Regions from separate parts of the Homo sapiens genome. Here region 1 is linked to region 2. The links come from fine-mapping of genetic effects on gene expression. A gene starts in region 2. The other region holds a variant in brackets. All regions are shown on one strand. Distances are from middle to middle.

Evidence for each region. PIP is the estimated chance that this variant, and not a neighbour inherited with it, causes the effect.
Region 1: its variant is fine-mapped to the expression of AXIN1 in whole blood (TOPMed, PIP above 0.99).

What each region holds. Positions count from the first base shown.
Region 1 is chr16:275,881-291,461 of GRCh38, forward strand. ARHGDIG (Rho GDP dissociation inhibitor gamma) reads left to right here and starts at 4,711. Exons shown (of 6, transcript NM_001176.4): 1 at 4,711-4,873; 2 at 5,866-6,045; 3 at 6,145-6,228; 4 at 6,417-6,493; 5 at 6,587-6,650; 6 at 6,735-7,130. The coding sequence starts at 4,801. The coding sequence ends at 6,934. It overlaps PDIA2 (protein disulfide isomerase family A member 2), which reads left to right and starts at 7,284. Exons shown (of 11, transcript NM_006849.4): 1 at 7,284-7,488; 2 at 8,507-8,713; 3 at 8,779-8,912; 4 at 8,998-9,135; 5 at 9,204-9,320; 6 at 9,432-9,557; 7 at 9,626-9,823; 8 at 10,473-10,593; 9 at 10,674-10,855; 10 at 10,955-11,065; 11 at 11,189-11,335. The coding sequence starts at 7,290. The coding sequence ends at 11,233. AXIN1 (axin 1) reads right to left here. Exons shown (of 11, transcript NM_003502.4): 9 at 15,310-15,417; 10 at 13,560-13,727; 11 at 11,560-12,368. The coding sequence ends at 12,242. It overlaps RGS11 (regulator of G protein signaling 11), which reads right to left and starts at 64. Exons shown (of 17, transcript NM_183337.3): 1 at 1-64. The coding sequence starts at 31. RefSeq lists an enhancer at 4,852-5,609. The variant G/A (reference allele first, on the strand shown) is at 11,733.
Region 2 is chr16:346,408-361,988 of GRCh38, forward strand. AXIN1 (axin 1) reads right to left here and starts at 6,316. Exons shown (of 11, transcript NM_003502.4): 1 at 5,962-6,316; 2 at 1-699. The coding sequence starts at 618. RefSeq lists enhancers at 2,822-3,101, 14,467-15,315, 15,316-15,581 and silencers at 5,535-5,594, 5,605-5,674, 5,695-5,744, 6,025-6,104, 6,205-6,684 and 1 more.

The DNA.
Region 1 (15,581 bases), 71 kb before region 2:
GGCCGGGGGGCGGCGCGGGGCCGGCGGCCATGGCTGCGGGGCGAGGCCGGCGGGGATGACCGACGTCCCGCCCGGCCCCGCCCCGCGCCGCGCCGCGCCCGGGTTAACCCTCGGGCCGCGAGGCCAGAGTCGCCCAGGCCCCGGTTCGGGTTTTAAGAGACACGGCCACGGCCCAGAGGCAAACGAGCCGGCCCCCCACGAGCGACCCGAGTCACCCCCCCGACCCAGGTCCCGGGACGCTGAGGCCCTCGTGGGTGAAGGCGAAGTGGGACGGGGGAGGGTGTGGGCCGGGGGCCGAGGGGGGATGTGAGGGGATGGAGCTCAGCTGGAGCAGGGGGTGGTCTCTGGGAGAGGCAGAGGGGCTCATCAGCGAGGGGGGGTTACTATGGGGAGGGTCTCAGGGAGGGCAGCGGAGGGGATGGGGGTTCAGAGAGGGAGAGGGGTTCCGTGAGTAGAGGAGACCCGTAGGGAGAGTGAACTGGGGTGGGAAACGTGGTTTAGGGCCCACTGTAACCCCGGTCCTATGTGTGGGGCCCTGAGGACATACAGGGACTAGAGGCCTGGCTGTGGGGCCGGGGCCAGGGCCAGCGGTATGACTGCCCGAGGCCTTGTGTCCTGCGATGCTTGTGGCCAAGACTGCATACATTGCTGTGACGGTGGCTGGTTAGGGGCAGGGTGCATGAGAGATTGGGTCAGCTTTCTACATGGGCCGGATGCCGGCTGTCAGTGGAGCACGTGGCTGCTGCAGAGTGTGACCCAGCTGTCCCCATCTCCTGCTGTGGGTCCCTTATCCGGGGTCCTTCCGGGAAAGTGGCTGATGGCTCATGGCTCACTTCCCTCAGCTCCACGCAGGCCTGGGTGGCCCGCTGGGGAATGAGCAGAAACCCTGCCCAGGGCACCCTGACACTGTTGGAGAGGAGCTTTACTGCAGGGAGGCCCTCAACACACACCCACTTAGTGTCACCGGCGGCCGCCAGGCTTCAGGCCCCACTCCACTCCCAGCTCTCTCCCTCCTCCAATGGCTATGCCTGTCCCCCAGGTGCACCCCGAGCCAGGCCCAGGATCTTCAGGCCCCACCGGGCAGTCTCGGCTCACTGCAACCTCCGCCTCCTGAATTCAAGCAATTCTCATGCCTCAGCCTCCTGAGTAGCTGGGATTACAGGCTCCCACCACCACGCCTGGCTAATTTTTATTTTTGTTTTTGTTTTTGAGACGGAGTCTCACTGTGTCACCCAAGCTGGAGTGCAGTGATGCGGTCTTGGCTCACTGCAGCCTCCGCCTCCTGGGTTCCAGCGATTCTCCTGTCTCAGCCTCCTAGGTAGCTGGGATTACAGGCACGCGCCACCACACCCAGCTAATTTTTGTATTTTTAGTAGAGATAGGGATTCACCACGTTGGCCAGGCTGGTTTCGAACTCCTGACCTCAGGTGATGTGCCTGCCTTGGCCTCCCAAAGTGCTAGGCTTATAGGTGTGAGCCACTGTGCCTGGCCGATTTTGGTATGTTTAGTAGAGATGGGGTTTCACCATGTTGGCCAGGCTGGTCTCAAACTCCTGACTTCAGGTGATCCACCTGCCTTGGCCTCCCAAAGTTCTGGGATGACAGGTGTGAGCCACCACACCCGGTCGGATCATTTTTTAAAAACTAAGTCGAGGTCTCACTATGTTGCCCAAGGTGGTCACAAACTCCTGGGCTCAGTCCATCCTCCTGCCTCAGCTTCCCAGCGTGCTGGGATTAAAGGCATGCCCAGCCAGCATCTTTTTTTTTTTTTTTTTTTTGAGACTGAGTCTTGCTCTGTCAGGCTGGAGTGCAATGGCGCAATCTCGTCTCACTGCAACCTCCTCCTCCCAGATTCAAGCAATTCTCCTGCCTCAGCCTCCTGAGTAGCTGAGATTACAGGCCCCCGCCACCACGCTTGGCTAATTTTTGTATTTTTAGTAGAGACAGCATTTCACCTTGTTGGCCAGGCTGGTCTTGAACTCCTGACCTTAGGCGATCTGCCCACCTCGGCCTCCCGAAGTGCTGGGATTACAGGCCTGAGCCACCGAGCCCAGCCTCAGCACCATTTTTAAAAGGTGCAAATGCATCTATTTCTGCTTGCTTTCTTTATTTTTTAAATTATTTATTTATTTATTTTGAGATGGAGTTTCACTCTTGTTGCCTAGGCTGGAGTGCAATGGTGCAATCTCGGGTCACTGCAACCTCCGCCTCCTGGGTTCAAGCGATTCTCTTGCCTCAGCTCCCAAGTAGGTGGGATCAGAGGCATGCGCCACCATGCCCGGCTAATTTTTTTTTTTGTTTTTTTTTTTGCATTTTTAGTAGAGATGGGGTTTCACCGTGTTGGCCAGGCTGGTATCAAACTTCCTGACCTCAAGTGATCCACCTGCCTTGGCCTCCCAAAGTGCTGGGATTACAGGCATGAGCCACCGCACCTGGCCACTAATTTTTTTTTTAATTTCATTTTTATTTTTGTAGATAAATATACACGTAGCCCCTCGCTTATCCCTGTCTGTAAGGGCCTCAGTTTCTTGCTGTGTTGCCTAGGCTGGCTGATCTTGAACTCCTGGCCTCAAGTGATCCTCCTGCCTCAGCCTCCCAAATGTTGGGATTACAGGCATGAGCCATGGCACCTGGCTATGTATTTATTTTTTGAGAGATGGCAGTCTCATTCTGTCACCCAGGCTGGAGTGCAGTGGTGCAATCATAAACTCATTGCAGCCTCAAACTCCTGAGCTCAAGTGATTCTCCCACCCCAGCGTCCTGAGTAGCTGGGACTACAGATGTGTACCACCGCATCTGGTCTATTTCTGCTTTCTTGGAGGCAGAGTACCTCTCCCCATCCTTACCCACTCAGAGGGTGCTAGGGGCTGGGCAGGGTGGGCGGTTGGCCTTGGGCTGGGAGCCCCTAACATAGTGGTCTGAGTCCATTTCCATTGCCGGAGAGGCCACGTTCAGCATGAGCTGGGGCAGGGGGCTTGTGGGGTCTCTTACTCCAGGGTACCATCTCGCTTGGATCCCAGTGAGCCCTCCCATGCCCCACACCCAGGTGGGGTGAGGTGGCCCAGGTCTGGCTGCCCTGTCTGCAGGGGTGGGCACCCATGGTAGCTGTGAGGCAGAATAGGGAATGAGGGTAGCCAAGGGTTGGGCATAAGAAACGGAACAGCAGGTGCAGCCAGTTCTAGGCAGGATTGGGCAGCTCACAAGCCACATCCTGGCTGCTGTGATAACAAGACAGAAATTTCCACTTCACCTCTGATTGGTCTCGGGCCAATCCTTCATAGGGTGTAGCCAATTGGAGGCCTCTAAAGGGCACAAGGGCTGTGGTCAGGTTTCTTTGCTTAATAAAAATCCTAATTACAGAGGCTCTGGAGCTACTTGCTCCAGCCCACTCCCACTCTGTGAATTGCCTTCCGTTAAATCTGTGCTTTCCTTACTCCGTTCTTCTGACTCAGTTTTGTTTCCTTGTGTTTCGTTGTTCTTTTGTTACTTTGTGCGTTTTGTTCAATTCTTTGTTCAACCCACCAAGAACCTGGACAACTCACCTCCAAGACCTTCTATCTGGTAACAGCTGCAGGAGCTGGAGCTGTGGGCCTGGGGACAAGTGTCCTAACAGCCCCCGCTCCCTGCAGCGAAGGGTCAGCAGAGGTGGCGCTCTAGGGGGGCCTGGGCACAAGTTCATAGGATCCTGCCCTGGAAAGGTTGTGGGCAGTTGGGGGGCAAGGGAGACAGTCCCCACCCAAACCCCAATGCCCCCTAGCACCCAAGGTGGTCTTCTCTCAATTGAGGAGCTCTTTGGCAAGGGCGGGTCTAATTTCTGGTGTCCCTGGAACCGGCCAGGGGTGTCTAAGAAAGGGACTCAGGCTGGTGTTCGGACCCCTTCTCCCTTATCCAGACGCAGGCCTTTGGTCCAGCTGTCCCAGCCAGGGCCTGCTCACCCCTGTCCCCTGCCGGGTCCCATCCCCCCCACCCACCCACAGGTCTCAGTTTAGGTGTCAATATCAGAAGCCCCCTCTGTGCTCCGGTCTCTGTACTCCGCCCCCTTGTCAGTGTCCTCTCCCTGAGGACAGGGGGCTCGGTAACTGGGTTTCCAAGAGCCCTGCAGGGACACCCCCTCTTGGGAACTCACACAGCGCAGCCAGGTCGCTAAGCCTTTGAGGGGCCCTTGTTGCCTCCTGGGTGTGCGTGCGACCCGCGCCCACTGTGGTCCCGCCCTACTGATGACCGTGAACCTGTAGGGTGTTGGGCCAGCCCCTCACCCCAAGGCTGGGCAGGCCCCCGGAGTCCCCCTCGGCCCAGACAGAAGCTCCCTCAGGAGCGGGGGAGGGGAAGGGGGCGCGCGGTCCGGCCCCAGGTGTGGCCGCGGATAATGAGACCCTGGGGATGGGGGCGCACCTGCGCCACGGCGCCCCGCAGAGGGTTTCCCAGGAGACCCCCTCGGGCTCCCGCCGCGCCGTGGGGGTGGGGCAGCCCTGCTGGCCAGAGCCGGGCACGGGCCGGGCGGGCGGCGGGGATCGTGACCGCGGCTGCGTGCGTCCGCGTCCGGGCGCTTCTGTGCGGGGTCCTGGCACGCCGGCGGGGGCGACCCGGGTGCCGGCCCGTGCGGGCGACACGCGCGTCTCTGCGGGGCTGCGCGGGGTCCGGAGCGGCTGGGGGCTCTCTGCCGGGCGCGGCTGGGCGCGGGGGGCGCTCCCGGCCGGGATGAGCTCACCGCAGTCGCGCCGGGGCTGAGCGCCGAGCGGGGCGGCGGCGGGGCGGGCGGCGGCTCCTCGGCGGCTCCGCGGCGCCCGGGCCGCGCGCCGCCATGCTGGGCCTGGACGCGTGCGAGCTGGGGGCGCAGCTGCTGGAGCTGCTCCGGCTGGCGCTGTGCGCCCGAGGTGAGCGGGCCGGGCAGGGGCGGGGGGCTCGGCTGGTCTCAGCCCCGGGCGGGGAGTAGCCCCTCCCCCGCGGCAACTTTGGGGGCGCGCATGGGGACCTCGCGGCGCCGACCCCCCGGCTGGGGTCTGGCAGGGGTGGGGGACTTCATCCAGGCTCCAGCCCTGTGGGGAAGGGACCAGGTGCGGACGGGTCGGCTTGGGAAGCGGCGGCGCTGGGACCCTCTCCCCCTGGACACCGCCGCCTGGAGCCCCTCTGTCTTGGGTGGGGCTGGGGCTGGGGCTCAGGCTCTGTAGGGCGTGTGGTGATCCCCGAGAAGACGGGAGCGAAGTGGGCAGGGACTCAGAAACCCCTGCCCAGGGCACCAGGGAGAGGGGCTTCAGGAGGCCACCAGCCCGGGGCGCCATGGGAGGCGGCGCAGAGCCTGAGCCCAGGGATTTGGAGACAGCCGCCCCCGGCACCCGAGCACCATGGGGAGGAACTCCTAGACTGTGGGAAAGTGTTCAGAGACCCCAGTCCAGAGCAGGGTGGTGGAGGGCCCTAGAGGGTCAGTAGGCTTGGGGGGCCGCCGAGGGCCCTAGAGGGTCAGTAGGTTTGGGGGCCGCCGAGGGCCCTAGAGGGTCAGTAGGTTTGGGGGCCGCCGAGGGCCGCTGCTCTCTAGCAGGTAGCCCCTGACCCTGGGCTGCCCTCATCTGAAGTCTTCGCTCCCCCGCCCTTTGGTCTCCGAGTCAGGGAGGGGGCCCTTGTGGACATCTGGGCCAGAGGAGCTGCAGGCCTGGCGGTCTCTGGAGGCCCCTCCTGAAGGTCTGGGTGCGGTGCGGCACCTCCCCAGGCCGCCCTGCTCTCTCTGCTCGCTCTCTCCCTGAGCCCCCAGAGGCTTCCCTTGAGTCCCTTTGGATAGTGGGAGGTACAGCTGGCCAGAGGGGGCTCCAGCCTGGTGCTCGAATGCCAGGGTCCGCTAGTGGCTGCTGCTCACGCCCCTCCCCACCCCCAGTCCTCCTGGCTGACAAGGAGGGTGGGCCGCCGGCAGTGGACGAGGTGTTGGATGAGGCTGTGCCCGAGTACCGGGCGCCGGGGAGGAAGAGCCTCTTGGAGATCCGGCAGCTGGACCCGGACGACAGGAGCCTGGCCAAGTACAAGCGGGTGCTGCTGGGGCCCCTGCCACCGGCCGTGGGTATGGCAGGGGTCTAGGCTTGGAGGGCTGGGTCTGGGGGGCTGGTGAGGAGCCTGGTGGGGGTGGGGGGCATCCTGCAGACTTCCAGTTTCTCCTCAGACCCAAGCCTGCCCAATGTGCAGGTGACCAGGCTGACACTCCTGTCGGAACAGGCTCCGGGGCCCGTCGTCATGGATCTCACAGGTAACTCGCAGGATGCTGCACCCTGAACACAGGTAGGGCCCTCCCAGGCACGCTTCTGCACCCCTGAGTTCCGAGCCCTGGGCCATCACAGTCGCACACCTCATGGGTACCACACCCTACGTGGGGGCTCCTGGAGCAGGTCTCAGCCTGTAGGGGAGTTCCGACCCTAGCTGAGGTTTCCCCAATAGGGGACCTGGCTGTTCTGAAGGACCAGGTGTTTGTCCTGAAGGAAGGTGTTGATTACAGAGTGAAGATCTCCTTCAAGGTGAGAGCCGGGGCAATGGGCGGAGGGGATGGGGGTGGGGGCAACAGCCAGAGGCCTGGCCCCCAGAGGAACCCCTAATGCCTCTGTTCCCAGGTCCACAGGGAGATTGTCAGCGGCCTCAAGTGTCTGCACCACACCTACCGCCGGGGCCTGCGCGGTGAGGGCAGCGGTGGGGGGAACGGGGCGGGGGGGGGAAGCGGGGGCAGACAGAGGACAGCTCTGATGCCCTCGCCCTCCCTAGTGGACAAGACCGTCTACATGGTGGGCAGCTATGGCCCGAGCGCCCAGGAGTATGAGTTTGTGACTCCGGTGGAGGAAGCGCCGAGGGGTGCGCTGGTGCGGGGCCCCTATCTGGTGGTGTCCCTCTTCACCGACGATGACAGGACGCACCACCTGTCCTGGGAGTGGGGTCTCTGCATCTGCCAGGACTGGAAGGACTGAACCCCCAGTCCGTGTCTCCCCTACCTCCCTCAGTTGTTGCACAGGGACCCCCAAGCATCCCCAGCACCCCCCGTGAGTGACCAGACCCTCCCCTGCTGCCCCTGCTGCCCCTGCTGCCCCTGCTCTGTCCCGGGACCCCCTGGCCTGGCGCTGTCCCCTGAGCTGTCCCATTAAACATGGCCCTGTCTCTCTCGGTGCCCTGGGTGTCGTCTCTTTCTGCCTCCCCTCCCCTGGGGGCCGGGGGCGGCCGCATGGGCCTTGTCTTTGCTGGGACTGGGCCTGTGTGCCACGTGGCAGCTGCTGCTTGGCTTCTGGCCCCCTTATCTGCCCCCGCCCCACGCGCCCTGGCAGCACCATGAGCCGCCAGCTTCTGCCTGTACTGCTGCTGCTGCTGCTCAGGGCTTCGTGCCCATGGGGTCAGGAACAGGGAGCGAGGAGCCCCTCGGAGGAGCCTCCAGAGGAGGAAATCCCCAAGGAGGATGGGATCTTGGTGCTGAGCCGCCACACCCTGGGCCTGGCCCTGCGGGAGCACCCTGCCCTGCTGGTGGAATTCTGTGAGTGCTGGGGCCAGTGGGGCTGGGGACCGGCGGGGGACCGGCAGAGCCCACCTGGGGGCCCCACCCTTTGCCGGCAAATGCAGGGCATGTGCCCAAGAGGGGCCTCCCCGCAGGCACTTGCCCCCACTGTGCCCAGGAGCTCTCTAGGAGGGGCCTGGGGGTCTGGTTGGGGCAGGCAGGAGCAGTGTGGTAGTACTGGGGGTACCCACAGGACTTGAGAACACCTGTGCCTCCCTGCTCGGCCAGCGGCCACGGTGCCAGAGTCACCACCTTGCCGGCCACTCCTCCAGCTGCCAGGGGCATCCCACAGACTCTGCAGAGGCTCGGGCAGTATCCAGGCTTTGGGGGCCCATGGAGGTCCCTGACGTGTGTGCCCTGTGGTCTTTTCGCAACCCTTGACACACATAGGAACTGTTCTTGCCTAGGAGGCCTTCACAGGCAGCCACATGGGCCCGGGAGCCCCAGCCATACAAGGCACGAAAGGGAGGGGTCTTTTTATTTTTATTTTTTGAGATGGAGTTTTGCTTTTGTCGCCCAGGCTGGAGTGCAGTGGCCCTATCTCGGCTCACTGCAACCTCCGCCTCCCAGGTTCAAGCAATTCTCCTGCCTCAGCCTCCCGAGTAGCTGGGATTATAGGCATACGCAACCAATCCCGGCTAATATTTTTTGTATTTTTAGTAGAGATGGGGTTTCTCCATGTTGGTCAGGCTGGTCTCGAACTCCCAACCTCAGGTGATATGCCCGCCTCTGCCTCCCAAAGTGCTGGGATTACTGGCGTGAGCCACTGAGCCTGGCTGTGGGGGGAGGGGGGGTGGTCTTTCAAGCTCTCCCAAGCCTTACTGGTCCCTGTGCTGCAGCCTGGGGGGCCACGAAGAGGCACTGGTGCTCGGCTTGTCCACGGCCAGGGCTCAGGGCAGAATGGAGCAGCACGCTTGTTCCCTGCTGGGTTGTCAGGTGTGGAGAGGGTGCTCCTGGGGTTGTGGTGGCCTGGGGCACTCACGGCCCCATCCCCCAGATGCCCCGTGGTGTGGGCACTGCCAGGCCCTGGCCCCCGAGTACAGCAAGGCAGCTGCCGTGCTCGCGGCCGAGTCAATGGTGGTCACGCTGGCCAAGGTGGATGGGCCCGCGCAGCGCGAGCTGGCTGAGGAGTTTGGTGTGACGGAGTACCCTACGCTCAAGTTCTTCCGCAATGGGAACCGCACGCACCCGGAGGAGTACACAGGTGAGGGGCAGGCCGGTCATTGGGGGGGCGGTGGCCAGGCCGAGGCTGAGGGGGACTCCCTGCAGGACCACGGGACGCTGAGGGCATTGCCGAGTGGCTGCGACGGCGGGTGGGGCCCAGTGCCATGCGGCTGGAGGACGAGGCGGCCGCCCAGGCGCTGATCGGTGGCCGGGACCTAGTGGTCATTGGCTTCTTCCAGGTGAGCCACTGGGCATGGGGGGCCGGGCCATGAGGGCAGTGACTGTGGGTGGGACCGGGTGGCCTCACAGGGCCAGGCCCCTCAGGACCTGCAGGACGAGGACGTGGCCACCTTCTTGGCCTTGGCCCAGGACGCCCTGGACATGACCTTTGGCCTCACAGACCGGCCGCGGCTCTTTCAGCAGTTTGGCCTCACCAAGGACACTGTGGTTCTCTTCAAGAAGGTAGGTCAGGCCCAGGTGTGGGTTGGGGTCCGGCTGCAGCGCCCGCTAACCCACCTGCTGCTGTCCAGTTTGATGAGGGGCGGGCAGACTTCCCCGTGGACGAGGAGCTTGGCCTGGACCTGGGGGATCTGTCGCGCTTCCTGGTCACACACAGCATGCGCCTGGTCACGGAGTTCAACAGCCAGGTGCGTAGGCTGCAGTGCCTGGGCTGGGGGTGTCCCAGGGTAGAGTCGTCCAGGGATGGGGGTGCCTAGGCTGGGGGTCCTGTGGAGTCATGAGCACCCTCCCTACTGTAGACGTCTGCCAAGATCTTCGCGGCCAGGATCCTCAACCACCTGCTGCTGTTTGTCAACCAGACGCTGGCTGCGCACCGGGAGCTCCTAGCGGGCTTTGGGGAGGCAGCTCCCCGCTTCCGGGGGCAGGTACTGGGGGGCTGGGGGAAAGGGGCAGCGGGAGAGTGGCCGGTGCCAGCATGGACTCCCTGCCACAGGTGCTGTTCGTGGTGGTGGACGTGGCGGCCGACAATGAGCACGTGCTGCAGTACTTTGGACTCAAGGCTGAGGCAGCCCCCACTCTGCGCTTGGTCAACCTTGAAACCACTAAGAAGTATGCGCCTGTGGATGGGGGCCCTGTCACCGCAGCGTCCATCACTGCTTTCTGCCATGCAGTCCTCAACGGCCAAGTCAAGGTCCGCTGCAGACTGCTCATAATGGAAGGGGAACCCTGACCTCATCCCACCAGCTTGGCAGGGGGTGGGAACAGCAGCTCTCAGAGCCCCCTGCCCCTGCAGGCCCCGCAGAGGCCCCCCTCAACCCGGCAATTCTCCCAACCCGGCGGTTCTCCCAACCCCAACCCGGCGGTTCTCCCAACCCCAAACCCGCGGTTCTCCCAACCCCAACCCCGCGGTTCTCCCAACCCCAACCCCAACCCCAACCCCAACCCCGCGGTTCTCCCAACCCCGCGGTTCTCCCAACCCCGCGGTTCTCCCAACCCCAACCCCGCGGTTCTCCAACCCCGCGGTTCTCCCAACCCCAACCTCAACCCCAACCCCACAGAGGTCCCTCCCCCCACCAAACCCCACAGTTCTCCCTCCCCCCACTAAACCCCACAGTTCTCCCAAACTTGAAGAGGACCTCCCTGTCAGGCCCTGCAGAGGATCTCCCCCCCACCTGCCCCCGGCCCCGCACAGGACCTCCCCCCCACCGCCCCCCCCACACAGAACCTCCCCCTGCCGCTGACCCCGCACAGGACCTCCCCCCCACCCCCCAGGCCCTGCACAGGACCTCCTGAACCCTGCAGAGGACCCCTGGCAAAGCGCCTGTCCTGGTTTCCCCCAGCCCTATCTCCTGAGCCAGGAGATACCCCCTGATTGGGATCAGCGGCCAGTTAAGACCCTCGTGGGCAAGAATTTTGAGCAGGTGGCTTTTGACGAAACCAAGAATGTGTTTGTCAAGTTCTGTGAGTGTTGAGGGAGGCAGGGGTGGTGTGGGCTGGGCAGGGGCTGCCCAGATGGCTGTGCTCAACGGCTCCCATCCTAGATGCCCCGTGGTGCACCCACTGCAAGGAGATGGCCCCTGCCTGGGAGGCATTGGCTGAGAAGTACCAAGACCACGAGGACATCATCATTGCTGAGCTGGATGCCACGGCCAACGAGCTGGATGCCTTCGCTGTGCACGGCTTCCCTACTCTCAAGTACTTCCCAGCAGGGCCAGGTCGGAAGGTATGGCGGACAGGTGGCTGGGGAGGAAGCCGGGGTGCCATCTTGCTGGGCATGGGGCTGGGCCCCACGTGTCCTCCAGATCCCCCTGCCTCTTCTCAGGTGATTGAATACAAAAGCACCAGGGACCTGGAGACTTTCTCCAAGTTCCTGGACAACGGGGGCGTGCTGCCCACGGAGGAGCCCCCGGAGGAGCCAGCAGCCCCGTTCCCGGTGGGTGTCCCTAAGCCAGGGCTCCAGGCCTCTGCACAAATCCTCTTTACACAGGGCTGGCAGGGGCGGGGGCAGGGGTAGGCTGGGAGCAGAGCTTCGAGCTGCACTTGTGACCCTTTCTAGGAGCCACCGGCCAACTCCACTATGGGGTCCAAGGAGGAACTGTAGCTGCCCCCGTGTCACCCCCGCCATCACTGCTGGACAGGAGCCACCCCCTTGGGTACCAGAGGGAGCTGTGCATTGTGAATAAAGAGTGAGCTTGGTTCTGGACTCTGTGTGCCTGGTCCCTCAGCAAGGCTGGCCTGATGCAGCTCTGCCCAGCTGGGGGCTCCAGGGCAGGAAGGTGGAGCACGTTCCTGCTCTAGCCCTGCCAGCCTCTGAGTCACAGGTGATCCCCATGCCTGCTGGAGGCCAGTGTGCCCTCCTTTACCACGGGGGCTGAGGCTGGGAGACCTAGGCCAGGCCCCACCCGCAGAAGACACACCACAGCCAGGGCAGGTTCAAAAACAGTTTTATTTCATTATTATCCAAGTACCTTTGAAAAGATAATTAATTGTACAAGTGTCATCGCATGAAAAACAGACTCGGGCAGCCCCTGCTGGCCTAGCCTGAGAAATGTACATATTTACACGGGCCCTCAGAAAGGAGGACCCAGGACTGCACAGCC[G/A]GCGGCTGGAGGCAGGTGCAGTGCTCCGTCGCCGATTCACACAGTGGCAGGCAAGAGACAAGCTGTGTTGAAGGCACTCGGTGGCGCGTACAATTGACAGAGGCCCTGCAGGCCTCTGCATCCGGGCCTGGGCCCCACCCAGACCTGGGTACGTGGGCAAATCCCAGAGGGAAAGTAGATCCCAGCACACGTGCCCAAGGGAGGTGCCGGGGGATGGGGGGGGGTCACCTGAAGCTGGCAGCAGGGACCTCGGCTGCCTCACTTGGGCTGGGCCCTCCAAGTATTGCTATGAGGAGTGGTCCAGGCTGCCTCCTTGGGGGCAGGACAGAAGCTTGTGGACCACTTGGAGGGACCCCCTACCTGCCTCTAGACACGGGTAGACCACAGGGATGGGTGGTACACCCAACACTGTTCCCCATCGGGCTCCTGAGTACGAGGTCATCTGCCTGGCCGTGACACCCGTGCCCGCCAAGGGCCTCGCCTGGCACAGCGGCCAGCCCACCAGCCTATCAGTCCACCTTCTCCACTTTGCCGATGATCTTCTCCTCAAAGACGGGCAGGACGGCCTCGTCCTCTCGAACCTCCTCAAACACCACCCCACAGTCAAACTCGTCGCTCACTTTCTTGAAGTAGTATCTGCAGGACGGAGGTGAGGAGGGCAGTGAGCAGGCAGCACCGCAGATGGGAAGGAGGCCTGTGGCAGGGGACGGCGTGTCCACACCCCATCCCGAGGAGCCTCCTGTCCATGCCCCACGGCCCCCACTGCATGTGCGCCCCCTCCCAGGGCAACAGTGAACAGTGCAATGACCACATGTGGGTGAAGTGGGCAGCCATGGGGGGTGAGTTCACTGCCTGCTGGGAGCACCCCACATCCCCCTGGGAGTACCTGCCCCAGCCTCTCAGGAGTTGCAGGGGGGAAGTGGACGGGTGTGGGGTGTCTGCTTCCCAAGGGCTGAGCCCCGTCATGGAGGTGACCCCAACTGGGGCCCTCCCTCAGCACCACATCTGCAGTCATGGGGTGTTTGCACAGTGGCTTGTGGACGGTGGGAACCACCCGCCAGGCTCTGCCAGGCTCTTGGGGTCAGGCCCCCTCTGCTCACCGCCCAGTGCTCACTCGGGAGCCTCCAAGGCTGGCTGCACGCAGGGCCCTGCAGGGCTGAGTGGCCCAGGGCGAATGAACCTTGGTAGGAGGGGGCTTGGCTTTTCAGTCAGGCAAAAGCACATGAGTCCAGAGCCTGGAGACAAGGTCGGCCTAGGGGAGCCTAACACAAGGTTCAGACCATCGTCGTCTAGGGGTCTGGCCTCTGTTTTCCCACCCCGAAGATGAGGGCCCTGGACGGGGGTCCCTTTGGACCCTCTCAGTCCTGTGGGGCCGAAAGCCTGATGCCACCCTCAGCCTAGGGCTTGGAGAAGTGGCTTTAGTTGCAGATGAGGGACATGAGCTGAAATGGCCGGAAGCCCTTTTTCTTCTTTTTTTTTTTTTGGGCGGGGGTAGAGACAGAGTCTCGCTCTGTCACCCAGGCTGGAGAGCAGTGGCGTGATCTCAGCTCACTGCAACCTCTGCCTCCCGAGTTCAAGCAATTCTGCCTCAGCCTCCCAAGTAGCACACCTGGCTAATTTCTTTAGTATTTTTAGTAGAGACGGGGTTTCACCATGTTGCCCAGGCTGGTCTCGAACTGCTGAGCTGAGGCAATCCGCCCACCTCAGCCTCCCAAAGTGCCAGGATTAGGACGTGAGCCACTGTGCCCGGCTGGAAACCCTCTTTTTCATACCGTTGGGCACCCACATACTCGTGCGGGGAGGGGGCACCCCAGCCCTCACACTCACCTGTAGCTGCCCTTTTTGGTCAGCAGCTCCTTGAACTGGCCCAGGGTGACAGCGCGGCCCCTCACCAGGGTGCGGTAGGGGATGGGTTCCCCGCAGAAGTAGTACGCCACAACGATGCTGTCACACGGCTGGGCACTCCCGCCGCCCACCTTCCTCTGCGATCTTGTCCTGGGGAAAGAGATGCAGCGGTGGTACCTGGTTTTGGACTGAGGTCCCACAGGGTCCCTCCTGCTGGCCTCAGGCTGCCAGTGTAAGGCGGGGCAGGCCTGCAGGGGTGAGCAGCACCCCATTCAAACACCTGGGGCCCGCAGCCCCCGCACAGCATCTCAATCTGGGATCTAGTCCGCTAGCAGTGGAGTCGGCTCCGCTCACTGGGAGCACGAAGGTCTCCCTGCTGCCTCACAGCCCCACCCTCGACTGGCCAGGGCCTGGCTGCCAGGTGCACTGCAGCTCCCACCTCTAGGATGGCAGGGCAGGCTGCAGGGCTCCTATCTCAGGAAGACCTACGGCCCCCAAACCTTAAAAACATCTGAAGGGCAGGGATTGGACAAACAGAACTGTGCACGATTTCTGGATAAGCCTGACCCCGCAGCGAAGTTTGTCGGAGGACTGGGGCGGGGGTGGCCAGCAGGCCCTTCAGAGGGGGCAGGGCTGGCACCGTCTCCTGCCCAGGCTGAGCCGGGCCCTCCTCTGACAGGTGCTGTGCTTCCACAGCCGTGCCGGGATGACGGGCGGGGCCTGGTTGCTCTCGCACCCCCCACTCGGCTACCCCGCCGCCACCTGTCCTTCAAGTGACTCCAGAAGCTGCCCCTGGCCCACTGGGGTTCAGCCCTTGGGCCTCCTCCTGGCTGGGTGCACCAGAGGCTTCCAGAGCCAACACCAGGGCAGGAAGGCCTCATGGCCACCTGAGCCATGTGACCATCCTCTTTGCACACCAGGCCCCCAGCCACGTGCGCTCTTAGACGTCCTCCCAGTGCCACATCCTCGGAGCCTCCTGGAGCCAGGCCCATCAGAGAAGAGCCAACACGTGGGGGCTGCCCCAGGGACAGGTGAAGGCTGCCCCAAGACCGCCTACACGATGAGGGCCACAACAAACCTGCATCTGGGGCAAGCCTGGCAAGGCCTGGGGGACCCTTGTTCTCAAGGCCCCTTTTGGGGTGTGCCCCCTCCTCCTGCCACCTTGAGCACATAAAGGCGCCGTCGACACGGCCCATGTGGGATCACATGGTCTGAGCCCTTTCTCACGGGTTCAGAGCAGTCAGCATTGTAGGTGGGAGCAGAGCCCCGACTCACTGACTGCACGGGCTGGACAGACACGCATGGCTGAGACCCACACTGCAAGCAGACGCACCCCGGGCACCTCAGCACCTGCAGCCCCGAGCCTGGTCAAGTCAGGCCTGGCAGGGACCGGCCCGTTCCAAGCCGGGTGGAGGCGCAGGCAGGTCTCTGCCCCACAGGAAGCCTGGCCGTGACACCTGTGTGGATGCAGGGGCTGGCTGTGCCCAGGCCTCCAGCCGGGCCTTTTGGTCACTTGTCATCATGCTGGACAGTCAGCGTCTCCTTTGATGGAGACAGGAGAAGGCTCTCGGGCAGCTTCGAGTCTGATGCCACGGGACCCTCTCCTGCCACAGCTGCTTCTGAGCGTGGTACCCGAGCTCAAGCCCCGGGACGGCGGCTCTACGATGGGACCTGGCTTGGGACGCCAGGGCTGGGGTGGGCAGGACCGGGAGGACCCTCAGGACGCACGTACTCTGTCTCGGAGAGCTCCATGTCCGACACGGCTGGTACCACGTGCAGCACCGGCGCGCACGCTGGCCTGACGCAGGCGCGTCCCCGCCGCATAACCTCCTGCACATACCTAGGGAACAACCCGCGTCAAAGGTGGCTGTGCCGGCGGCCACCAGCCCTGGGGAGGGAGCCTCGACCAATGCTGCTGCGCAGGGACGGACGGAGCGTGAAGGGCCCGAACAACCCACCCTGCGCAGGCTCCAGTTTGCAGGGTAGACAAGACACCGAGTCCCC
Region 2 (15,581 bases):
AATATCAGACTTAAGGAAGGAGGGATAGGTGTTTTCCTCCATAGTGGCCTGGATTTCGGTCTGGGCCTGGTCAAACATGGCAGGATCGATCAGCTGCTTCATGATGCAGCCCTTTATGAAGCTCTTGGTGGCTGGCTTGGTCTGCCGGGACACGATGCCATTGTTATCAAGAATGTACTTTCGGTAGATGGCTCTCGCCAGCTTCAGCCTCTTCTCCTCGTTCGAGTCACAGGGCTCCAGCTTCCTGAAGCCAGTGCAGGCAAACCAGAAGTCCAGCAAGTCGGCACAGCCCTCCTGCTTCAGGAAAGTCCTGAACAGGCTTATCCCATCTTGGTCATCCAGCAGGGAATGCAGTGACTCAGCCCACTTCAAGTATGGTGGGGTGGGGGAGGCACTGCCCTCAGGCTCATACCCCAGGTCCAGATCCGAGCGCCTCGGAGTGGCCGTCGAAGTCTCACCTTTAATGCCAACACCTTTCCCGGAGCAGAAACTGTAGCTGGCGGGCCTCGGGTCTGTGGACACCAGTTCTCCCTCCTCACCAGGCACTGGGGGTCGGGGAGCATCTTCGGTGAAACTTGCTCCGAGGTCCAAGGGGAAACCCTGCTCTTGGATATTCATTTTGGGACTCTGCGTCAAGGAACAATGAGCGCTGCACCCTAATACATCAGTACTTACAGCTCCAAAGTGAATCAATCTGTCCTGTTGAAACCATTAAGAGGACAAGGATTAGGAAAGGTGGGTCCATGAAACACGACCAGAGGTTTTCTCAAGACAAGACTCACGATGACGCCCTCCCGCTCAAACTCAAAGCAAGAAACTCAGTTTAAATGTTCAATCAAGATATATTTTGGCCACAAGCATAGTTCTACTTTAAAGCAATTTCTGGAAACTTTTACAACTACAGGAATGCCTCTCATGCTAAGAAGGGATGCCCAGGACATGGGAATGCCACTCCCCACAAGTCTCACTGCACAAACATCACGGAGGCTGGCAGCTTGAGCACCTCCCACCTCAGCTGCAGAGCTGAGGGACAGGGAAGGCAGGAAGACCGGAGGAAGGAAAGCTGCCTCTAGTCCTGACTATGTGTACAAACCTGAGTGAGGGCTGGACCCTCACAAGTAAGATGGAGACAATCGCTCCACCAGCCCCAGCAACACTCAGAGAGAAAGGAAGGTGCGCTACAGCCCCGAAGGTGGTGGGCGTCTTCTGAACCCCACGTCCTCCAGGCCCACGGCCACTGTTTTCTACCTGCTGCATCACGTCACGCGTGGTACACCTTCCGACACATGAGAACACACTGCAGGGTGTTCCTCCGACTCTCAACACACGCCTCAAAGAGAGATAATCATGGGTCACCTTCAGCCCCATCGACCGAGGGATCAAGGACACCACCCAGGCCCACAGAGGCGCTCGGACACCGTCACTGGAGACAATCTTAAAATGCTCTGTCAGAATGCTGCACTTGACTCTGAAAAGCCTCTCTGATGAGGATTCAGATAGCAAATAGTAAATGGGTACTTCAAGGAACAGAGAAGGTACAGAATAAAAGGAAATGCAAATACAATTTTTAGCTAAGGAAGCTATAGTTCATGTGACTTCACTCCTTAAGCTGAAAACCAAACCACCCACCCTCTTAGACATCAGGGAACTATAGAATTTGCTGCTACTACTGCTGCTGCTGCTACAAGCCTGCAAGGGGTGTGCAAAAGAGAGTAGATAAGGGCTCCAACAGAACCCCTGCCATGGTCTATGGTCCTTCCTGCCACGTCCTACAGGAGCCCAGGAGCTCTGGCTATGCCTGTCAACCCGGCCATGCAGGTGACTGAAACAACAGCCTGCCATGATGTAAGTGGTCCTGGCTAAAAGGGGCTGGAGAGAGGGCTTTAGAGAAGCATGTTGGGTTCAAAAGCCTAGAGTGCTGAACAAGTCACAGCAAACAAATAAAACCCTAAAACCCAGGACCAACTGAAGGGGGATCTATCCCCCAGCCACCACTCCACACTGCTGTCCCTTGTCTATGTGGAATCTGTCCCCCACACCAACTTCCTCACATTGCACACACTTTACCAGCCAACAGCTGCTCACGGCTGGAAGCACGAAGGATCCACAGAGCCAGGCGTGGTGTCACGCACCTGTAGTCCCAGCTACTCAGGAGGCTGAGGCTGGAGGATCCCTTGAGCCCAAGAGTTCAAGACTAACCTGGGCAACATAGTGAGACCCAATCTCTACCAAAAAACAGTTCTTAATTAGCCGGGTATGGTAGCGTATGCCTGTAGTCTCAGCTACTTGGAAGACTGAGGCAAGAGGATCACTTGACCCAGGAGTTCAAGGCTGCAGTGAGCTATAATCGCACCCCACTGCACTCCAGCCTGGGCAACAGAGCAAGATCCTGTCTCTAAAAAAAAAATAGGCCGGGCACAGTGGCTCACACCTGTAATCCCAGCACTTTGGGAAGCCAAGGCGGGCGGATCACGAGGTCAAGAGATCGAGACCATCCTGGCTAACACGGTGAAACCCCATCTCTACTAAAAATACAAAAAATTAGCCAGGCATGGTGGTGGGCACCTGCAGTCCCAGCTACTCGGGAGACTGACGTGGGAGAATGGCATGAACCCGGGAGGCAGAGCTTGCAGTGAGCCGACACCGCGCCGGCCACTGCACTCCAGCTTGGGCGACAGAGTGAGACTCTGTCTCAAAAAAATAAAATAAAATAAAATAAAATAAAATTAGTAAATAAATAAGAAGCACCCATAGATGGAGGATGGTTTGCAACTATGTGCCCCCAATGACATTTCAGCAGCTAAGGACTTTTTGTGAACGCTGCTGGGTAGTATGTCATCTTGGCCTCAGCAGGAACACACAGCTTCTAAAGGTCAAGGCCCAGTGAGCTGTGACATCCTGCTGCTCACAGACCACTTCAGCGGCAGTCACTCCGTGAGCCACATCAGCATGGAGGGAGCACCCTGGGCGTGGGCACCTCCACACTAGCTCACGGTCATCTGTCTGGGACGCCATCACAGGAAAGAAGGCCTGCACCCTGACCACCTGAGCCTTACCACTATAGATGTACTACCATTCACTAGCTTGAAGAACCAAGTCACCGGAGAGTGGAAAGTGATTAATCAGACAGTGCTCAGAAGGGAGGCTAACCACAAGTCACCATCATGCTCTCATAAGGGACTTAAGTCTTCTGTGTTAATTATTGGTAGTAGCGGGACCCACAGCACCCAGCACAAGGTCCTGCAACTAACGGGCACCAGTAAGTCATTCACTGATGTAAAAAAGAAAAGACATTTGTCACAGACGCCAAACACTGGCTCTCTACAGGGGCTGAACTACTGTACCACAGAAAACAGCAGCAAATTCTTCCAAAACTAATGGGTTTTGTTGTTTTGTTTTTTGTTATTTTGAGACAGGGTCTCGCTCTGTCGCCTAGGCTGGACTGCAGTGGGGCGATCTCAGCTCACTGCAGCCTCAGCTTCCCAGGCTCAAGCAATTCTCCAGCCTCAGCCTCTCAAGTGGCGGGGACTACAGGCACGAGTCATCAACGCCCGGCTAATTACTGTATTTTGGGTTTCACCACGTTGGCCAGGCTGGTCTCAAACTCCTGAGCTCAAAGCAATCCACCCGCCTCGGCCTCCCAAAGTGTTGGGATTACAGGCCACTTTGCCTGGCCCCAAAACTAATGTTTTAATTCATGTGTGAACCAAATTTTCAGAGCCCAGAAGAAAATTTTCTTACAATCATGTGTATTTTTGGCTGTCAACTGACAGAAGACTTTTTGGTGTCCCTGGAAGCACATGAACCCCTCTACAAGCTACTGATGTTGTTGAAACATGTCCCAATTCCTGAAATCTCTGGGTTCCCACAGGGAAGCACACCAAGCATTTAGTGTACACACAAGTACACACCACACATAAAGCAGTCACGTTTACTCAGTTCAGTATCAAATGCCTGCAAGCACTGAATCTGGCCCACAGCCTGTAGCTACCATCAATAAAGTGAGTCCATAAAACGGGCGGGATGCCTACAAGTATGATACTGTATTTAAAATTCCCTTTCGTCACCGCTTAGGCATATGCTCCAGGCATCATGGCAGCAAACTCAATGCTACCTACGTGTGTAGGTATTTATTTTACCCAAACGTAACTTTTGACATTTTGATTTACATGGAGGAGGCAAGTAACACAACACGACTCTGACATCTTCCCAGCTGTCCATTGATTTAACTCTTGAAGGTTCAGGGCTACTATTTCACATGTAATTTATTCCCCCATCACTGAAATTCTCAATGACCAATGTAATCCGAAAAAGTCTGCTTAGCTTTTCTGAAACTAGAAACCCAAGACAAGTCAACACCAGCTGAAAATCAAACAAAAACAGTCTGTTTTTCATGCTTTCCCATCCTTGTCCCTGAATGGAGATCTTAAAACTGAAACCAAAGCCAGGTGAGGTGGCTCACGCCTGTAATCCCAGCACTTTGGGAGGCCGAGGTGGGCGGATCACCTGAGGTCGGGAGTTCAAGACCATCCTGACCCACATACAGAAACCCCATCTCTACTAAAAATACAAAATTAGTCAGGCTTGGTGGCGCATGCCTATAATCCCAGCTACTTGGGAAGGCTGAGGCAGGAGAATCGCTTGAACCTGGGAGGCGGAGGATGCGGTGAGCGGAGATCACGCCATTGGACTCCAGCCTGGGCAACAAGAGCAAAACTCTGTCTCAAAAAAAAAAAAAAACTGAAACCGAGCTATTGCTGAGTATCTCGGGTAGCCGGTTTAGACTGTGTTTTCTCCAAAATAGGGCCTGTGGATCCAAGTAAGCTCGAGATTCTTCCTGAAGAAGCAGAGAACAGAAGTGTGAGCAAAAACAAGGGGCTGACATGCACATAAGAACCCTTTATAAATTATCTTAGAAGGGGCCAGGCGCGGTGGCTCACGCCTGTAATCCCAACACTTTGGTAGGCCAAAGTGGGCAGATCACCTGAGGTCAGGAGTTCCAGGCCAGCCTGGTCAACATGGTGAAACCCTGTCTCTACTAAAAATACAAAAATTAGCCGGATGTGGTGGCGCATGCCTGTTATCCCAGCTACTCAGGCGGCTGAGGCAGGAAAACTGCTTGAACCCGGGAGGCGGAGGTTGCAGTGAGCCAAGATAGCGCCACTGCACTCCAGCCTGGGCTACAGTGCGAGACTCCGTCTCAAAAAAAAAAAATTATCTTAGAGGACGGTGGTCACCCCTGTAGTCCCAACACCTTGGAAGGCTGAGGCAGGTGGATCGCTTGAGGCCAAGAATTCAACACCTGCTGGGCAATATAGTGACACCCCATCTCTACAAAAAATATATATATATATATCTTATAGATGGGCTGAGAAAAATCCCCAGAGAACTGACATGTTTTTCTCTACTTTCTTCAATGCCAAGCTGAAAGTTTCACTGCTCGGGCAGTGCAGCTCTGGTTTCACGGGGGCTAAATTCCAAAGTGCGGGGCGGGGGTAGAATCTAAGAACCACACCCAAGAGAAAGACCAGTGTTTGGGCAGCAAGGCATCAACCTGGAGGGTACGGACGCCGGAGCACGCGGCTACTCAGGCCGAACCCCGACCCGGACCCGGCACGCGGCCTCGGCGAGGGCGGGCGGGAGTGTCCTCCTCCGGGACAGCCGGACTCCCGCCGACTTCTGGGCGGCGGGGAGGGCTCCAGGCCCGGCTCTCCCGGGCCCCCGCACGCGATGCGCGGCCCCTGCAGCTGCTCCGTGCCCCGAGACGCGCCCGAGGCCTCGGACCTCCAAGCGGCCACCGCGCCGCCAGTCCCGCTGCCCAGGGACACCCCGGCCCCAGCTCCCCGCGCGCCCACCCCCTCGGTCCCACGCGCGTCAGCCACCCGCGCCCCCCGCCGCTTCCGGGTCCCGCCCGCCCGGCCTACCGCGGCCTAGCCCGCCCCGGAGCCCGGCCCTACTCACCCGCGCGCGGTGGTGGCGGGACCCCGGGCCCGGCTCCCGGAGCGGCGCGGCGCGGTCCGGGCCCATGCGCTCAGCGGCAGCGCGGCGGGCGGGACCCGGCGGGGGCGCGGCCCGGGGCGGCCCCCATCTCGGCGGCTGCGGCTCGGCGGCCCGGAGGCGGACGCGGGGCAGGCCGCGGGGGCGCCGCAGGGGCCCAGCCGCCAGCTCCCACCCGCCCGCTCCGCGTGGACGCGGCTCCGGGCCGACTCCGGCCGGCTCTGGCGGCGGCAGCGGCCACGATCGCCTCCCGAGCCAGAGCCCGAGCCAGAGCGCCGAAGCCCAGGCCCGAGCGCCCCCGCCGGCGGCGTCCGGAAGTGCGGGGGCGGGGCCGGGGCGCGGGGACGAGGTGAGAGCGCGGGGCGGGGCCTCAACACGGGGCGGGGCCGGCAGCGCGGGGACGAGGTAAAGGGTGTGGGGCGGGGCTTCAGGCGCGGGGCGGGGCTGAAAGCGCGAGGATAAAGTGAGGAGCGTGGGGCGGGGCCGACAGCGAGGGGACAGGTGAGGAGCGCGGGGCGGGGCCGGGGCGTGGGCGGGGCCGGAAGCGAGAAGACGAGGTGAAGAGCTCGGGGCGGGGCCTCGGGCGTGGGGCGGGGACCAGGGAGTAAGGCGGGGCCCGCCTCGAGCAGAAGAGGTAAAGAGCGTGGGGCGGGGCCTCCGGCGCGGGGCGGGGCCGGAAGCGAGAAGACGAGTTGAGAAACATGGGCCGGGGTCTCTGCATGGCCGGGAGAGGGCGTGGTCAGTGCCTGCCGGGGGCGGGGCGTGCCGGGGGCGCGGTCGCGCCGTCTTCCCGAGGGGCGGTGCGGAAGCGGAGCCCGGGAGGCTTTGGCTTCCCAGAGAGCGGAGTGGGAGAGGCGGCGTTGCAGGTCCTTGGAATGGCCGCGGCCGTGGGGAGCACTGGGCGGACTGCGCGCCCCGAAGGGCGCACGTGGGGCGCAGCCCTTTTCTGCCGCCAGTACATCGGAGGGCAGTCAGGGGGCTGCAGGCCTCGGGGCTCCCTGCCCAGCCGGCCCTGGAGAGGAGGCCCTCGTGGGGACCGCCACGGCCTGCCCGCCGCCGTGAGGGAAGCAGGCTCCCAGGAGTGGGGTGGTCGGCAGGCAGGGATGGCCAGGGCCCTTGGAAGGTGGGGTGGGCTCCACCCTCCTGAGTCCCAAGGCAGCCTGGACTCACAGCGCCAGGGAACACGTTAGGCCCCAATATATGGTGGCTCTCACCCGGACAGGAGCCACAACCTCCAAAGAGCCCACCGGCTAGGACCCTCTGCCTTGATTTCTCCCAGGCACCATCTAGTATCAGAGAAGGGTTCTCCTTCCCTCCGCTGCCCAGGCCAGCCCGAGAGCAAGGCCATTGGAGTGTCCAGACCCCTGCACCCCTTCCCCTGGGCTGTCTCCACAGCGGCCCTGCCAAGGGGTCCAGTCCGATCCTGCCACCCTGGCTGCCCAGATCCGTGTCACTTGCCCTGCAGGCCACAGAGCATGAGGTCACAGCCCCAGGCACCCCACGGCAGAGAGGCACGGGCCCCCAGCAGCAGCCCCAGCACCAGCTCTGGCCAGCCCAACCCTGTCAGAACCAACCCTCTGCTCTCCACCCAGGCCTCAGCCAACCATCAGGCCCTCCCCAAGGAGGAGGATGTGAGTACCAGGATCTGCCGCCTCCCACAACAGCCCAGGGCCCTGTCCTTCCCAGAGCACTATTGGGCCTGGCACCTCCCGGGATGCTCCAGGCAGCCCCCTGGGGTCAGCTATACCCCCGTTTCACAGAGGAGACAGCTGCAGTTCAGGCCACACAGGACCAGCTCGCCTCCTGTTGGGTGAGGGCTCCCCACCTCGTCCGCCCCACACCTGAGACAACAGCCCTCATCTATCTGCCCTCTGCTTTAGGCCTCCCAGGGCTCCCTGCTGCCCACAGCCCTTCAGGGCCCTTCCTAAGGGCGCCTCCCCCACACCTTCCCCTAGATGCGTCTGGCCACTTGCCCGCCTCCGTGCTTCCGTGTCCATCATGTCCATACCTGCCAGCTCCCTCCAGGCACCTCTCACGTCACCCCCATGTCTTTCCCTGGGCTGTGTCACCCTGGATGCCCAGCCTCACCCTTCAGAGCTCCCAGGCAAGCACAGAAGTCCCAGCTCCAGGCTCCCCGAGCTTCCAGCCTACCCCCAACCAGATGCCCACAGGTGGGACTGCATGGGGAACCATGTGTGGAAGCCTCCCAGCCCTCGCCCCTGCCAGCACTCAGCATGGTGTCTGATGCCAGCATCGCTGTGTGGGAAAGGGGGTAGCATGGGACAAGGGCCACTAGGCTGTCCCCAGCCTGCCAAGGGCCCAGGCCCACCTCCCAGGGCCATCACTGTGCTCAGAGCAGGTGGGCAGGGGCTGGGGATATGAACGAAGCTGCACTGTTAGACCAACACCTGGCCCCGCTGGGTCCTGGCCGCAGGCACCCTGCCAGGTCCCACAGTGCTGGACACTGGGGCCTCCCCGCAAGCCCCCTAGCCCATTCAGCCTCAGAACCTTAGAGGAGACAGAGTGGGTGGCCTCCATGGTAAAGCACAGTTTCCAGGGATGAGGGAGTCCTGGGTGGCCAGACAGACAGCAGGACCTCAGACACTGGCCCCTGGGCTGCCCCCCGACTCCCAACAAGGTCCCCAATGCTTGCCTTGGTTCTGCAGAGCTGCTGCTGTGTCCGGGCCAGGCTCTCGGGGCTGTGTCCACGTCCATCCTCCTCTTGGCCCTCGGTGGCAGGTGTCCCCAGGCCCTGGGACCAGAACAAGGCCCTTGGGCCTCCAGCTCCTCGGGGCCCCTGCCCTGCAGGGACAGGAAGGGGGTCAGAAAGCCTGGAGGAAATGCAGCAGCCCTTCTAAAGTAGGTTGTGGTGTGGGTGTGGAGGGGAGATTCTCTGAGCCTAGTGGGGGTAGGAGGAGACCAGAGGCAGGCCAGGCAGAAGAGAGGTAGAGGAAGGCCCTGAGGAGGGGCAGGGAGGCGCGCGGGGGCCTGTGGTGTGCAGGGTGAGGTTCAGCCACCTCCCTTCCTCACAGAGCTCCTTGAAGAGGCAAACGCCCTTTGCTTCGAGCGTGAGTTTGCCACGAAGGCTTTTATTTGATTGACCGTAGATGACATTTAATCAGGTTTTGTTTCTAGGCACCAAATGAGACACTTAAGAGCAGACATGGAATTATTTTCTTCAATGTAGACATAAAAGGTATGTTTTTTTGTTTGTTGGTTTTTGGAGACGGAGTTTCATTCTGTTGCCCAGGCTGGAGCCCAGTGGCGTGATTTTGGCTCACTGCAGCCTCCACCTACCATGCTCAAGTGATCTTCCCACCTCAGCCTCCCGAGTAACTGGGATTACAGGCGTGTGCCACCACACCCCACTAATTGTTTGTATTTTTGCTAGAGACAGGGTTTCATCATGTTGCCCAGGCCGGTCTCTAACTCCTGAGCTCAAGGGATCCACCTGCGTTGGCCTCCCGAAGTGCTGGGATTACGGGCCCAAGCCACCATGCCCAGCCTAAAAGGAATACCTTGAAAATAAAGTGGCTGGCCCGGAGCGGTGGCTCACGCCTGTAATCCCAGCACTTTGGGAGGCCGATGCAGGTGGATCACGAAGTAAGGAGTTCGAGACCAGCCTGACCAACATGGTGAAACCCCATCTCTACTAAAAATAGAAAAATTAGCCAGGCGTGGTGGCGCACACCTGTAGTCCCAGCTACTCAGGAGGCTGAGGCAGGATAATTGCTTGAACCTGGGAGGCAGAGGTTGCAGTGAGCTGAGATCGCCCCATTGCACTCCAGCCTGGGTGACAGAGCGAGACTCTGTCTCAAAAAAATAAAAATAAAGAAAAGGCCAGGCACGGTGGCTCACACCCGTAGTCCTAGCAGTTCGGGAGGCCAAGGCCAGAGGATCACTTAAGCTTAGGAGTTCAAGACCAGTCTGGGCAACATAGTGAGACCTTGTCTCTACTAAACAATTTTTAAAAACTAGCTGGGCGTGGTGTTGCGCACCTATGGTCTCAGCTACTCGGGAGCGCGAGGCAGGTGGATCACTTGAACCCAGCGGTTGGAGGCTTTAGTGAGCTGTGATTGAGCCACTACACGTCAGCCTGGGCAACAGAGTAAGACCGTGTCTCCAAGAAATAAAAATTAAGAAAATAATAAAGTGAGTTTTGATGCCTTAAGTGTGTTTATCCATTTAACTGAGGAAGACCACTTATAAAAAATGACCCAAAGGAAACCCTGGAAGACACCCCAAGGACATTAGCTGGGGAGTGTTTGCCGCTGTACGATGTGTGATGGAGACAGCCAGCTGCAGAGATGGACACTGTGCAGCCACCGACCCTGCATCAGTGTAAGGGGAGCGGGGGAAGAGGACGGACGGTTCTGATCCAGGGTTCTGGAGGCTGAGGGAAGCCTTGGGTTCAGCCTCTTCCAGTCTGCCCCTTCTCTGCCCCCTCCGCTCAGTCCATAGGTGTGAGAGGTGGGAGTGGGCAGGCAGGGGAGGCCGCTGGAGGGGAGGGAGGCCCCTCGAGGGGGAGGGAGGCCTTGGACCATCCCGTTCAGGCGAGGGAGGACTGCACTTTCCATCGCAGGCAGAGCCCCCACCACCCTCCACCGCCTTCCAGGCTGTAAGGCGAGCCCCAGCTCTCATCCCTGAGCCTTCTTTTTCCATCAGTTCTGAGCCCACAGGAGAGGCCAGATGCTGCCTGTGCCCCCATCCCAAGCCCGACAGAGAACAAGGAGCTACAACACCCCAGAGACATGCCGCCAGGCCACGCACACAGGGCACCACTTTTCCTGAAAATAGAAAATGTGGGCGGGGCGCAGTGGCTCACACCTGTAATCCCAGCACTTTGGGAGGCTGAGGCGGGAGGATCACTTGAAGTCAGCGGTTTAAGATTAGCCTGGGCAACAATGCAAGACCCTTTCCCTATAGAAGCATTGTTTTTAATTAGCCAGGCATGGTGGCGTGCACCTGTGGTCCCAGGTACACGGAGACAAGAGGATGGCTTGAGCCCGAGTGGTCAAGGCTGCAGTGAGCTGAGATGGTGCCACTCCACTCCAGTCTGGGTGAGAGAAAGACCTGACACTGGGCCAGGCGTGGTGGCTCACGCCTGTAATCCCAGCACTTTGGGAGGTCAAGGCAGGCAGATCGCCTGAGGCTGGGAGTTCGAGACCAGCCTGACCAACATGGAGAAACCCCATCTCTACTAAAAATACAAAATTAGCCAGGCGTGGTGGCGCATGCCCGTAATCCCAGCTACTTGGGACACTGAGGCAGGAGAATCGCTTGAACCCGGGAGGCGGACGTTGCAGTGAGCTGAGATCGCGCCACAGCACTCCAGCCTGGGCGACAGAGCGAGACTCTATCTCAAAAAAAAAAAAAGGGCAAGAAGACTCAAAACAGTCCACGTGTTATTAGTGGAAGCAGAAGCATGAAGTTCCATTTTCTTCTTTGCATGTTCAGGAATGTCTACAGGGATGTAACAGTTATGGTCCCGTGGAACGGTCTGTGTAAGTTAACCCACTGAAGGAGACGGGCATCACGGCTGAGGCCCTGAGGGGTGGAACTGACCACTGGGCAGTGTGTGTCCAGCAGGGTGATGGTCACGGCTGATGGCAGCCACATCGCCCCACGGTGGCCTGGGGCCTGGCATGGAGGTTCTGCCACCTTCCTGAGAGACACACCCTGCCAGGGGCTTCCTGGGCCATCCCAGCTGTTGGTGTCACTTTGGGCTGGGGCCTCCCCGGCCTCCACATCTGGCAGCCCCCTTAGCACTGATGTGCCCCTAGATAGGTCCTTCCTCCTCTCCCCCTCACACCTGTCGGGCAGGTGTGTCATCCAACTATGTTGCAACACGCTTCCTATTTGGAGTGGTCCACATAGCTCTGTAGCCAAAGCTGCCTCCGCAGGGCAGATGCCCCAGGAGTGATCCTGGTCCCCACAAAAGGCAGAGGCCTGGGGGAAGGGGAGCAGGGCCCTACCTCATATGCCCTGGCTCCAATATCAGGTCAGTGTGACTGTCACCATGGCCATGGATGACCTGACGGCCTCTGCCCCCGGGACCCACCATTGGCTGGGCACCTGTGGTCAGGAGGACCCACCCACAGAGAGGTGGAGGGTGAACCACTCAGCCGCTGCGGGGCAGGGGCCCAAAGAAACGGGTGCTGTGTGTGGCCAGGCTCGGTGGCTCACACCTGTAATCCCAGCACTTTGGGAGGCTGAGGCGGGTGGATCACCTGAGGTCAAGAGTTCGAGACCAGCCTGGCCAACATGGTGAAACCCCGTCTCTACTAAAAATACAAAAATTAGGCCAGGCACAGTGGTTCACGCCTGTAATTTTAGCACTTTGGGAGGCCAAGGTGGGCGTATCACCTCAGGTCAGGAGCTCGAGACCAGCCTGGCCAACGTGGTGAAACCCCATCTCTACTAAAAATGCAAAAAATTAGCCAGGTATGGTGGCAGGCCCCTGTAATCTCGGCTACTGGGGAGGTTGGGGCAGGAGAATCACTTGAACCCAGGAGACAGAGGTTGCAGTGAGCCAAGATTGTGCCAAGGCACTCCAGCCTGGGCAACAGAGTGAGACTCCATCTCAAAAAAAAAAAAAAAAAAGAAAAAGAAATGAAACGGCTGCTGTGGCCACAGTGCTTGGTCCCCGCTGGCTCCGGGTCCATACTTGTCCCCTGGGGCAGGCCCCAGACCTGCCGTCACCCACGTCGCCTGCGCCCAGCCCCGTCCAGCAGACCTGACAGTCCCCACATCCCCGCTGGCCTCCAGGGGTCAAGGGTCAGGACGCCAAGGCCAACAGGAAAGCACTGGCAACAGGGCGGGGGCCTGGCCAGCCAGGCGGCCCAGAGGCGGTCCCCTCCATCCCAGGGTACTGTCCACACCTCCCAGTGTCCTGAGGGGAGTCCTCCTGCACTGCCTTTCTGAAGAGTTCTGACCCCAGGGTGTCCAGGGGCTGGGACTGGGGCCAGGTGGATACCAGGATGTGGTCAAGTAGGCCTGCCTGGAGGGTCCGGCCGCAGGGGCTGGGGAAGTAGGAGGGGAGGGCGGCCACCACTTCCCAACTCGGGAGCTGCTGACATCAGGGGACTGTTGGGCCTGGCCTGGCACCTGCCTCCCAGGAGACCTGAGTGCCCATCCTTGTCTTGGGCCAGCCTGTAGCCCTAGGCAAAGCAGGCACCTCCTTGTGCCAGTGTCCCCCTGGGCAAAGTGATCGTCCTGACCTGGCCTCACAGCCCCAGAGGTCCGTGTGTGACCCTCTCTGACAGGCCGGGTGGCGGGATGGAGCCCACGGCTGGCCATGGACCAGGTCTGGTGTCCCAGGCACATTGTGAGCACAGGGCAGGGCCTGCTGGCCTCCCCCAACCTCAGTGCTGTTTTCCCAAAAAGAGGTGGCATCCAAGTGCAGGGGCCATGCCCCGAGGGGCCTCGCGCTGACTTCGGGAAGTAGCAGGTGACGTCCCACCTCCCTGGGCAGCCTCAGGCCGCTTCCTGTCCTTGTTGGGGGGACTCCTGCCCCTGCCACACCGACCACAGTCCTTGTCCCTGCTGTTCCCTCACCTGAACGCCCTTCCCTGCCCTGACGGCCTCCATCCCACACGCCTCTCCGGGCGCTGCCGCCCCCCCGTTGGTGCTCATCTGTCCTTCTGCCCACTATCCCCAGCGGCCCCGATACCTGCACACCCCAGTGCCCAGCGGTTCCCCCTCGAGCTGGCAAGGGGACATTAAATGGGAGGTGAGGAAGTGCGGCCCCCAGCGGGCAGCTGCCTTTGCCCCGGCCCACCTGCGCCCCCGCCCACCTGTGCCCTCCGCCGCCTCCCTCTGCTTGGCTGTCCCAAGATGTCTCTCTCCACTGCCTAGGAACCCTGAGGCCGCGGCCAAGTTCTGAGCGTGTGACTGTGTGTGCTGGGCCCCAGGCCCCTTTGTCGCCGCGGCGTCTGTCGTGGCAAACAAAAGTGAACCGGATTAGCCACAGTGGATTAAAAGATTTACGTCTCAGAGTTTACCTAATAACCTAACAATCGTGTCAACGGGAGCTTTGAACCCCCAGGGCGCGCCTGCCAGGCCAACTGAGAGCTCAAGGCCTCTGTGGGCAGCAGGACGTGGTCGGGGGGAGGAGACGCAGCCACGGCTGTCCTCACACCCAGCTCGGCCCCTGCGGGCTCCTCTGGGCAGAACCTGGGGAAGGCACGGCCTCTAGCAGGAGGTGGAGGCCTTTGAAAGGGTGCAGGTGTTGGGACCAGGTACCCGGCCCAGGCCCCCAGCCGCGTCCACACACGTCGCACACGGCAGCAAGGACGCAAGCAGTGTGGAGGTGGCCGCGTCGGCGACGTATGGGCCCCGTGGTGCTGCGGTGCACGACCTCTGTGCTGTCACCCCACAGTGTCCGCTCCTGCACGTACACGCGTGCACGCGCACACACGTGCACACGCACACACACACAAGCACGCCCCGCTTTGATCTCTAAAGGAGAGTCCATTGACAAGCTCTTAATCGCAGCTGCCCTTGCAGGGCCTGTCCCTGAAGTCCCGAGTAATGGGATTTGGCGCTTCTGATCCATCGGGCTGGCCGCTTCCCGTGTCATAGGTGGACATTTTTTTTCTTTATATCGCTTCTGTTTCTTTTTTTTTTTTCTCCTCGAAAAAATGCTGCTTAAACGGCACCGACTTGACATGGCTTGTCTCCTAACCTTGGAGTGGCGGCCGGGACGCCGGCCTGGATCAGTCGGGGGTCTTTGATGCCGCCTCCATGTGAAACCTGACGTGGAAGACCCACCGGGGCGGTTTTGGGGTCCGAGGTCCGTCAGGATTCATCCTGCCTCACCCTGCTCCCTTTGTCTCTTCCCCTGACCCTTCCTCGGGACACCCGGAGAGGGTCTGAGGGTGAGGGTGCGGGCGCTGCGTGTGGGCTTGCACTCGAGGGTGGGGTGGGCCGAGGGCAGGGCCGCAGCCGCGAGAACAATGGGCAGAGGAGGCGCGTCCACCTGTCCGCCCGGCCGCCTGCCCGGCTTACCTCACCTGCCTGGCTCCGTGTGCCTGCTCACGCCCCACCGTCCCGCTGTCCGCCATGATGGGCTTGGCCGTCCGTCCGAGCACTTTCAGCCACTCTGGGAAGCAGGTCCCTGCTCTTGGCCACTGTGTGGCTGGGAGGCAGAAGCGTGACTCTGGGCTGCAGCTCGGGCTCCTGCCGCCGATTGGCTGAGGCAGGGACCAGATGACGGGCCTCAGAACCCTATGGTAGCCATGGCAACCAGCCCCTTTAGACACCGCCACCCCCGAGCCACTCCTGACTGCTGAGGGAGCAGGCGGCACTGCCCGTGGGCCCATGCCAGGGTCCCCTTGGAGGAACGAGGTGGGCATGGCTGCATGGTAGCTGTCCCCACAACAGCTGTTAAGCGTTTCCGTGTGTTTCATTCATGTCCAGTGTGTGGGGTCCTTGCCCCTCTCCTGGCCTGTCCGGGGCCACTCTGTGCCCTGCCTTACCCCCAGCAGAGGCAGAAGCACTGGCCTTGCAGCCCCTGCTGAGAGGAGGACTTCAGGTCAGGCTTGCCTCAGGGGCTGAAGGCCAGGCCCAGTCTGGTGGGAAAA